Homo sapiens: one gene and its partners. The protein of the gene in region 3 purifies or fractionates together with the protein of the main gene of each other region. This does not show direct contact. Each region holds a gene or a part of one and is shown on either strand. Other genes may lie near its edges.

Region 1 (3,652 bases), on a different chromosome or scaffold from region 3:
CCTATAGTCGCAGCCACTGGGGAGGCTGAGGTGCTTGAGCCCAGAAGGCAGAGGTTGCAGTGAGCGATGATTGCAACACTGCACTCCAGCGACAGAGCTAAGACTCTGTCTCAAAAAAAAAAAAAAAAAAAAAAAAAAAAGAGGCAGCACACAGACTCCAAGGTTCTAAGCCCAGCTCATTCCCTAACTCGTTCCATGGGCTTGCACAAGAAGTCACTCAACCTCCTCGGGCCTCAGTTTCCATATAAATAAAACGGGAAAAGTAAGATAACTGTGAAGATGAAATGACAGCACAGTGCCAGGCACACAGTTCAAGCTTAATGACTGTGTTCCCCAGAGCAGCACCCCCAAGAGCTCCCCTGCACTCACTGGGGTCACAGTCATTGATGTCCTGATCGCAGGAAGGGCCAGTGTACCCTCCATGGCAGGTGCAGCTGAAACTCCCTGCCAGGTTGGTGCAGATACCATGAGGGCCACAGGGTGCGGGGCCAGCACACTCGTCCACATCCTGCTGGCATCGTGGGCCTGGGGGTAGGGAGCAAGGTTACACCTAGGGTTACAGGGTACAGAGCAGGGTCTCAGGGACCTGGGGCTCAGGAAGAACCTGCAGGCCGAGATGGGTGAAGGCAAAATAAGCCGTGCTGTCATTCGTGTCTGGGCATTTTGCATATGCAGTTTCAGAATGGCCGTCTCCCTGTCTCAGTAGGTGGCAAATACCTACTATGAGGTCTGCTCCTCCAGGAAGCTGTACCCTAAACCCCGCCCTAAGTCCCAGCATCTCTAGCCCCATAACTCTTCCTCTTCCAAGGGCTGACCCACACAGGCTGCATATCAGTGTCCAGCTCTGTCCTTCCAAGAAGGAAGCCCCTCTCAAAGGCAGGGCTGGGGATGGGTCCCTCTCTGGATCCCCAGCATCATCCCTGATAGGGTAGGGGGCAGAGGAGATGGAGAGGAGGAGGGAAGAGAAGCAGGTGGCATACCTTGCCAGCCCTGGGGGCAGGAGCAGACAGGCAGCTGGCCAGGGGCAGACTCGCAGCGGCCCCCATGCTCACAGGGGTTCGGGGTGCAGGGGGAGAGGAGTTCACACTGACGTCCTGTTGGGGGTGGAAGAGAGGGAAGCAGAGATAGCCTTGAGGGACTCCCTGATCCCATCTCCCCCCACCTCCCCCAACCCCAGGGTCCCCACCTTGATACCCACCTCCCAAGCTCCTGGAGGGAAATGATTGAAAGCAAAAAAGAAGCTAACATAGCGGGAGGAGAGAGTAGAGGAGAAGAGAGATGAGAAGGCCCATGGTGTTGGTGGGGCTGCAGAGGGAAGGTGAGGTACACACCCTGGACACCAGGCGGGCAGGTGCAGTGGAAACCCATTCCATCGCTGCTGCATGTCCCACCGGCCCTGCACGGCTGGGACTCACAGGCGTCTCGGGCCAGGCTCTGGCTGCAGCGGGGGCCACTCCAGCCAGGCTCACACACACAGCGGAACCTGGCAGGGGAAGGTAGTCAGGCCAGGGAGGTGGGCCAGGGAGAGGGGGCAGTGTCTGAGGCTGAGAAGGGCCCTCACCCGCCAGGTGCATCATAGCAGATGCCGTGACTGCAGGGCTCATGGGCACAGGGATGGCTCGGGGGGAGGCAGAGTGGGGGCAAGGAGCCAGGCGGGCAGAGGCAGCGGAAGCCATTTTCCCCATCCACACAGGAACCTCCCTCGCCGCATGGGCTGGAAGCACACTCATTGATCTCCACGTTACAAAGGGGCCCTGGGGAGTACACAAGCAATCTCATCTCAGAACAAAGTCAGCAGGGACAACCAGGGAGGGACGACGTGACCCCACTTAGCACACCCACACCCCCGAGCAATGACCTCTTTTTCATAACGCATCAGCTCTTGTGCAGATTAGGACACCCGCCTCCTCAACCAAGAGCTGACTTGCCCCAGATCATTCTGGTCCCCAAACTTCCATGAAGTCCCTTTCTTTTTCTTTTCTTCTTCTTCTTATTTTTTGAGATGGGGTCTCACTCTGTCGCCCGGGCTGGACTGCAGTGGCATGATCATAGCTCACCACAGCCTCCACTTCCTGGGCTCAAGCGATTCTCCCACCTCAGCCTCCCGAGTGGCTGGGACTACAGTTGCGCACCACCACGTCTGGCTAATTGTGTGTGCATGTGTGTGCGTGTTTATCTACGTATTGACTAATCTGGCTTTGGGAGTGTGTTTATTTTTTGTAGAGACAGGGTTTCATTATGTTGCCCAGGCTAGTCTCGAACTCCTGGGCTCAAGTGATCCTCATGTCTCAGCCTCCCAAAGTGCTGGGGGATTACAGACATGAGCCAACACACCTAGCAAAGTCACATTCATTTCCACTAAGGATTAGTTTAGACCCATTCAGAAATAACCTAGTCACTGAGTTTGGACACTTTCATCTATGTTCCAGAATAATCTTTTTGTTTGTTTTTGTATGTGTGTGTGTGTGTGTGTGTGTGTGTGTGTGTGTGTGTGTTTGAAATGAAGTCTCACTCTGTCGCCCAGACTGGAGTACAGTGGCACAATCTTGGCTCACTGCCGCCTCCGCCTCCTGAGGTCAAGCAATTCTCCTGCCTCAGCCTCCCGAGTAGCTAGGACTACAGGCGCCCACCACCACACCCGACTAATTTTTGTATTTTTAGTAGAGATGGGGCTTCGCAACGTTGGCCACGCTGGTCTCGAACTCCTGACCTCAAGTGATCCACTTGCCTTGGCCTCCCAGAGCGCTGGGATTACAGGCGTGAGCCACCGCGCCCAGCCTGCAGAATAATCTCGAAACAACCTTATGCCAATGAGACAGCACAGACTCAGGGCAAAGCACGGACAACCTCGTTGGACAAGAGTCTGCAAAGATACGGGCAAAACAGGCCCACAGAGACGAGTGACTTCACCCTCGATCTAAGGACCCCCTCTCATGGCAGCCACTTGCCCACCTGTGAAGCCAGGTTGGCAGACACAGTCGTAGCGGTTGATGCCATCACGGCAGACTCCAAAGGTGCAGGGGTTGCTGGCACAGTCGTCAATGTTCACTTCGCAGTTCACACCTAGGGGCCAGGAACATGGCATGGAGTGGCCACCACTGTGCCCCACTAGATGCACCATTCCCAAACCCTCTGTGCCCCTCCAGGTGTGCTGTTTCTGCCCCAGCCCCCGGTCCCACCTGTGGTCCCAGAAGGGCAGCGGCAGAGGTACTTGTCCACCAGGTCTAGGCATTTGCCGCCATGGCGGCAGGGCTGGCTGCGGCATTCGTCCACCTGGCTCTCGCAGCGTGTGCCCGTGTAGCCAGGAGCACAGGCACATGAGAAGCTGGCGATGCCATCCACGCAGCGACCATGGTGGCATGGGTCAGGGGAGCAGTCGTCCACGTTGCGATCACACAGCGTGCCCTCAAAGCCTGTGGGGCCAAGAGGGTCAGGCTCCGCCCACTTGCCAGGGGCCTGCCCACAAGTGAGGCCTCGGACCAATCCTGGTTCAGCTCTATCTGAGGCCCTGCCCATCAAGCTGTCAGGAGGCGAGCTCAATACAGGCCCCACCCCCCACCCCCCACTTACTTCCACTCCACCCCACTACAAGCTCCAGAATTTGTCCCTAGCCAAGACTCTCCCACAGTTAAATCCCGCCCCCAGCTGTGGC
Region 2 (3,652 bases), on a different chromosome or scaffold from region 3:
GAGGTTTTGCCATTGGCCAGGCTGGTCTCAAAGTCCTGACCCTCAAGTGATCCACCTACCTCCCAAAAGTGTTGGGATTACAGGCGTGAGCCACTGTGCGTGGCTCAAGAATAAACTTTAGAAGAGGCCTGTTATTTTATATTAGCCCAAAGCCAAACTGATCACCTTGACTCAAAGACCAAAGAGGTTTGATAACCTCTTAGAAAAATAAAACCACTGGGAGGGCCAAGTTTTCCTTCATAAAATAGTCTAATGTCTGCTGTAGCTCTTAGCAAAGTTAATCAATCAGGCCCAATGTTCTATCTGAGATCTCGGTAACTGTCTCTCTTTATCCACTGAGGCCATACAGAGAAAAACAGAAATTAAAGCCACTCAGAGAATACTTATTTTCAAGCCAGTAGCTTCTGGCAAATATAAGCCATTTAAATACCCAAGGCCCTGTAACAGTTTTATTTTTTAGCTTTGTCTTGAACCATCCAATCTTACACAAATTAAATACTCTTTTGAGACCACTCTACCATACTAGCTATTACAAAGAAGTGTCGTTTTTCTATTCTCAAAACTGGGCATGGGGGAGACATTGTTCTATCTCACATAGAGAAGTCTTCAAGTCATTCCCATACAAATTAAAAAGAAGGGGTGTTAATGCATTGTTCTGCTCAAAATGATTAGTTTTTCAGATGTCCATGCTTGTTCCTTTTCAGATATCTATCATCTGTTGCTTTGAAGCCCTAAATCTCAAAAATTAAAATTCATACCATCTTTGTTCCTTCTTTGTTTTTGTCCTTCTCACCTCTTTGCACCAGCCCTTCCCTCCTGCCCTATTTCCCTCCTCAACCAAACTTACCTCCTGTCTGAGTGATGACTTGTATGTCACTTGAAAGGGGACCATCTCCAATTGAGGTAAAAGCCAGGACTTTGACAGAATATGTTTTCTGGGGCACTAAGTTGCCAATAGTAGTGATTTGGCTGTCAGCTACATTGTGTTTCATCCAGTTGTTGACATGTTGAGTGGGATCCATTGTATAATAAACTCTATATCCTTGGATCTGTCCATTTGGCTCTTCAGGTTCCTTCCACTGTACCAAAATGGTGGTCGAACTCAACATTCGTGCCTGGACATCCCTCGGGGCACTGGATGGTGCTTGCTCTGAGGTTTGTGTTAGCACAGGTTCGCTGGGAGGCCCCCGCCCAATGTTATTGACAGCAACAACCCTGAATTCATAATCCGAGTAGGGACTTAGTCCAGCGACACTGTAGCGTGTGGTCGCCACCCCATCAATTTCTTTGTAAAGTTCCTCAGAGTTTTTAGGTTTATGCTGAATTATGTAATAAGAAACAGGCTCAGGGTTCCCAGAGTCCCACGTCAGTGTGATGCTTGTAGCTGTGCTCTCGGTCACTACAGGAGTTCCTGGAGGTTTGGGTAAGGCTTGGATGGGGGAAGATAAAAGACAATGACTACCCATCATCCCTATAATATTTCAAAAATCTATAAACTCTACTATGAAAATGACAGGATTATGTATCTACTGAAGATTTAATTAAATGAAATTATAGCAAAGAGTAGTTTTCTGAATGGCCAAGAAGGACAGGAAAACATTCATAGGTGACACAAATCCTGCTTTCCTAGAAGGGCTTGATAGCATATTTTTAGGCTTGTATCCAAATCCTCTACTTATTAGCTAAGTGATCCTGCACGCATTTCTTAACCTCTCTTTGCTTTAGTTTCCTCATGTGGAAATGGGAAAAATATTATTATTTAAGTCATATTATACAGCTGTATGTAACTGTATTTCATGGGTTTGCTGTGAAGACTAATGAGCCAATCCACTAAGATTCTTAGAATGTAACTGGAACCCACAAAAAAACCTTAGTATTAGCTGCAGTTATTACTATTATTATACCAAAAGCTTGGCCAATTAGCCCCTTGCCCCAATAAATAAATGGTATAACTGAAATACCGATAAACATTGAAAAGAACAAAATGTGGAATACATTGAAATGAAATTAAATTGCGATGAAACAATAACATCTATATTCTGGTAAGACACAATACCATTACTAAAAATTTTCTTGTAAATGAAAAACCAAAAATTTTAAGGTGCAAAAGAATAGAAATTTCAAATCAATGCTTTATTCTTAATATTTAAAAATTGCTGAAGGAAGTAAATTAAGGCACATTCACCAATCACTTTTTAAGGTATGTTATGGTCATATTAATATGCATTCTATATTCCACATCAGAAATATCCAATGTAGCTACATGACAAATATTTGCAATAAAATCCATCTTTTTAGAGGTCTAATTCTTTCTTTTTAGCAGAAGAATACAAATCAAAATACTACTAATTAAAAATATAAACTGTCTGCTTTGCTGACCTCATATTCAAGTGCCTTATTCTAAACAATGATTCTGAAACGCAGTGCTATTAGGGTAGGAAGGGGCATTCTAATAGTTGACTCTTTAGAGAAATCTCAAAGGGTAACATTCATATAATCAGCCCATTAGTGTCCCTGTTTCCTTGCCAACATAAAGGCAAGAAGTATAACACCCCCTAGAATGGCAGCTTTTCAAGAGCAGCAAACTTGTACTTCTGACTTACTGTAAAATTGTGAATGCCTAGAATGCTGCCTGGCACTCGGTAGGTTTTTAATGAGAATCGTTAAACAGTTAACTGAATAAATGAGTCAGCACCCATTCACCTCATTCTCTTCAACCTGTTCTTTTGTTTTGATTTATTTTAATTTGCCATTAAGATTCACTCTTATGTTTTATTTGTTTATTTTTGAGGTGGAAAAGACAGGGAAGTGGCAAGAGTCAGGAAAACAAAGATGAGAAGGTGAACAAAATATTAGTTTAAAGTGGCCCCTGCTTTTGAATTCTTAAAGGTCTTCAGCAAGCCTTCAAATATTTAAAGCTGAAATGGTAATTATAAAAAAGGTGATTCAATATTTACACACTACTCAAAGAACTACAGAATGATAGTATTTTGTCAAGGGAATTTACTGAAAATAATAATAAAATGAAATTTGTTTAAATATTCTGACCTGGCATTTTTCAAGGCTGTGTGTGCTCCAGATTTCCCCTACATGTCTTTCTGAACTTTCAAAGCAAATACAAATATTGCTAATTAAAGCTGTGCTCACTGATATTTAGCTGACATTATTAGTTTCACTAAGTCACATTTATTGTACAGTACAGGTTTTATGTCTGTAATGTACGGATAAATACATGTGTGCTTATTATATTAAGGTTACACAATATAACATTATTTCACGATTGTAAATGTTGACAATGTGTACCTTTGTTCTCATGTCATTAGTTTTATATAGCATATATTTGATATATACGCTTGGTTAGAGATGCGATACCAATTATAACGTGTATTGCATTTTCTAAGATCACCCCCTAGAATGGCAGCTTTTCAAGAGTAGCAAACTTGTACTTCTTACTTGCTGCTGAATTCCAAATGCCTACAACATTGCCTAGGAAAAGAAGATAATTTGTGTTCATTTTGCAATAGTTCTAGCCATCTGCAGAAAACTTAAGTTGCCCTATGTCTGACTCAATTTGCAAACACTTTCTAGAATTCTATAAACACTAGGGGAAAAAAAAACGGTACCCTTACATGCTTGTACTCTTTCTCTTTAG
Region 3 (3,652 bases):
GCTGCCCAGGCTGGAGTGCAATGGTGCAATCTCAGCTCACTGCAACCTCCACCTCCAGGGTTCAAGCGATTCTCCCACATCAGCCTCCCAAGTAGCTGGGATTACAGGCACGTGCCACCACGCCCAGCTAATTTTTTGTATTTTTTTTTTAGTAGAGACAGGGTTTCACCATGTTGGCCAGGCTGGTCTCGAACTCCTGACCTCAGGTGATCCACTTGCCTCAGCCTCCCAAAGTGCTGGGATTACAGGCATGAGCCACCGTGCCCAGCCTGGCTGTTTTCTTTGTATTTTAAAAATTATGGCCAGCGTTCTTTTGTGTGTATGTTGGGCAGGGGGAGAGGGGGATGGCAGTAAAAGTCACAGGAAGTGTAGTTGATGAACCTTTCTAATAAATCATTTTAATAATTTCAGCTGCTCAGTTAAACTAAATTTGGCCTGAGGCTGCCTGCATACTTTGAGTTCCCACAGAGCAAACTGCAAGCAAACTTAGTATGTAAACAAACTGCAACTTATCTTAGCAGTATATTCTCTTAAGACAGAGACTGGCTGAGACAAGTTGCTGAGTCTCAGCCAATCATGGCAGCCAAGCATCAGCCAATCACAGGCTACCGACTGATGAGCTCCTGTCCATACCCAACACCTGATCACATCACCCTCAAATAAATAAGGTGAACACCCAACTGTAACCAATCAGCTATTTCTGTAGGGCACTTCCTTTTTCTGTCTATAAATACTGCCTGACCAAATTGCTTGGGGGAGCCTCTGAACTGGTCCTGTTTTTGAGTGCTGCCAGATTCATTAATCACTATTTGCTCAGACAACTCTACTATTTATTTGTCTAAAGTTGTTTGTTGTTGTTTTGTTTTTTGTTTTTGTTTTTTTTACACAGGCAAGTAAACCTGAAGCCAAACAACACTGAATCTATAAACAACCAGGAGATGCTCGGTGCAGTGACTCATGCCTGTAATCCCAGCACTTTGAGAGGCCAAGGCAAGCAGATCACCTGAGGCCAGGAGTTGGAGATCAGCCTGGCCACCATGGCAAAACCATATCTCTACAAAAAATACAAAAAAAAATGAGCCAGGCATAGTGGCACCCACCTGTAATCCCAGCTACTTGGGAGGCTGAGACATGAGACTCGCTTGAACCCAGGAGGAGCGGGTTGCAGTGAGCCGAGATCACACCACTGCAATCCAGCCTAGGCAACAGAGAGAGACTGCCTCAAAAAAACAAAACAACAACAACAAAAAAAACAAAACAGGAGACTATTCAGTGTAATTTATTCATTCCTTTCTAAGAGACGGGATCGTGCTCTGTTGCCCAGGCTGGAGTGCAGTGGCGCGATCTCGACTCACTGCAAGCTCCACCTCCCAGGTTCACGCCATTCTCCTGCCTCAACCTCCCAAGTAGCTGGGACTACAGGCACCCACCACGACACCCAGCTAATTTTTTGTATTTTTAGTAGAGACGGGGTTTCACCGTGATAGCCAGGACGGTCTCGATCTCCTGACCTCGTGATCTGCCCGCCTCGGCCTCCCAAAGTGCTAGGATTACAGGTATGAGCCACTGTGCCTGGCCGGGATCTACTTTTTTCTTATTTAGGTCAGGATTGCAGGGACAGGGACAGAGTGAGAGGGACTTCATGACTGTGATGCTGTTTCAGTTACAAAGTGCATTTATACATAAGATTTCATTTGATCTTTGGTTATACGGTAAACAGAACTTATCTACCAGACGGGTGTAAAAGTTTGGAGCAGAATGTTTAAAAAATTGAGTAATCTCTACCTCTGGAAATGATTAATTAAAAGATATAAAATGCTCTCTCCAGCACTATGTAAGGGTGTCCCAGGGAGAAATGTCTTGATCCGAGAATGATGAAACCAAAGTTCTAGTTCTAGCTCTGCATTAAATATGTGTCCTTACGAGAATCCCTCAATTTCTTTGGATTTGAGTCTCCTCATCTGTCAAATGGAGGGGAGTGTGTGTGTGTGTGTGTGTGTGTGTGTGTGTGTGCACGCGCGCGTGCAGGAGGATACTCTAGACACACTGAGGAGTAGGGAGTTTGAACACCTTCCTCTGAAAATGCTTCCAAACTGGTAGGGAGAAAGAAAGGTGGAACATGATGAGAATGACCTCTGTTCCCCAAGCCCCCTTTCAGCTCAGACATTCTCTCATTTTAAATTTGGCCATGGAAATGACAATTTGAGGCACTCCAAGAACCTGGCTCTTTGCAGATGAGTGAAAGTTGTGCTAAGTAAGACACTGGAGAGGCTGTCTGAGAGGTGAGAGTGTGGCAGGGGCTGTCTGGCCATAATCAGAATGTGATTGTGGAGGAACAACCTGAACCAATGCCCCTCATGGCTGGAGGAGTCTGAAAAGAACATTACATGCTGGAGCTGTTTGCTGATCTCTCCGTCCAGGTGTTAGCCAAAGTCAGATGCTCTGGCCACAGCCTCGGGTGGACAAGAGGCGCACTCATGACTCTTAACAACAGCACCTACCCTCAAGCCAGCAAATGGAGGAGCCAGGATTTGAGCCCAGGTCTGTCTGACCCAGAACCTGTGTTCTCAGCCATTCTGCTGTATTATTCTACTAGTCAGCAAAGAGCTCCATAAGAAGCATCCATTTGTCCAAAGGACCATTCTGTATCCCAGGAGAGAAACCATTGCCCAGCGATTTGCCTTTCCGGTACCTGAGCTCCCTATGATGGCCAGCATCTGCCCACTTCTCACTTTGAAGCTTAGGTTCTGGATGCCCAGCTCACAAGAATTCTGGCAGCTGGGAGATGTCCAGGGCATCTTGAACTGAGCCAGCTGCTCAAACCAAGGGACCTGAGAGGCCAGGTCCACCTGTGGGGAGATATCAGAAGGTTCCTTAGAGAGCTGAATGGTTCAGAGGGCTTCAGCAACTTCTGTTCAGCATCTTCGTTCCCCAGGTGGCCCCTCTCCACAGAGGATATGTCCTCACCTACACACAATAGGCCCCAACCCAGGTTCTACCAAACACGGAAGCAGGACCCATGCTGAGAACCTGTAGCTGCTGTTTCTAGGTCTGAAGATAAGAAGAATGAAAAGCATGTACAGGCCAGGCATGGTGGCTCATGCCTGTAATCTCAGCACTTTGGAAGGCTGAGGCAGGTGGATCACCTGAGGTCAGGAGTTTGAGACCAGCCTGGCCAACATGGTAAAACCCCGCCTCTACTAAAAATACAAAAATTAGCCAGGCATGGTGGTGGTTGCCTGTAATCCCAGCTACTTGGGAGGCTGAGGCAGGAGAATCACTTGAATTTGGGAGGCAGAGATTGCAGTCAGCCAAGATTGCACCACTGCATCCCAGCCTGGGTGACAGAATGAGACTCCATCTCAAAAAAAAAAGTAAGGAAAAAAGAAAATCATGTGCAATAGTGGTACAGAAATAAAAATAAAACACGAAGCAAAATGTCTTCACTTGATACTAGTAATTTACTAATAATTTATCAGATGTTTACTATGTGCAAGACATTGTGTTAATCACTTAACATCCATCACCTTATTCAATCCTCACTGCAAATCTATAACATAGATATGCTCAGAATCCTTGTTTTACAGATGAGGCTCAGGGCAGTTAAGCAACTTGCTCAAGGTCACACAGCTGGTAAGTGGCAGAGCAGAGA

The links.
Region 1: the proteins of ABCG8 (region 3) and NOTCH3 purify together in Homo sapiens (affinity purification with mass spectrometry; 2 studies listed by BioGRID and IntAct, with this or other methods). This does not show direct contact.
Region 2: the proteins of ABCG8 (region 3) and PTPRD purify together in Homo sapiens (affinity purification with mass spectrometry; 2 studies listed by BioGRID and IntAct, with this or other methods). This does not show direct contact.

The regions. Positions count from the first base shown.
Region 1 is NC_000019.10:15,183,926-15,187,577, forward strand, and holds part of NOTCH3 (neurogenic locus notch homolog protein 3 precursor), read right to left. Parts: intron 3,414-3,652; coding exon 3,180-3,413; intron 3,064-3,179; coding exon 2,953-3,063; intron 1,755-2,952; coding exon 1,562-1,754; intron 1,484-1,561; coding exon 1,332-1,483; intron 1,095-1,331; coding exon 981-1,094; intron 526-980; coding exon 370-525; intron 1-369. UniProt on the Homo sapiens protein: Functions as a receptor for membrane-bound ligands Jagged1, Jagged2 and Delta1 to regulate cell-fate determination.
Region 2 is NC_000009.12:8,517,001-8,520,652, forward strand, and holds part of PTPRD (receptor-type tyrosine-protein phosphatase delta isoform 1 precursor), read right to left. Parts: intron 1,430-3,652; coding exon 848-1,429; intron 1-847.
Region 3 is NC_000002.12:43,845,352-43,849,003, reverse strand, and holds part of ABCG8 (ATP-binding cassette sub-family G member 8), read right to left. Parts: intron 2,850-3,652; coding exon 2,693-2,849; intron 1-2,692. UniProt on the Homo sapiens protein: ABCG5 and ABCG8 form an obligate heterodimer that mediates Mg(2+)- and ATP-dependent sterol transport across the cell membrane.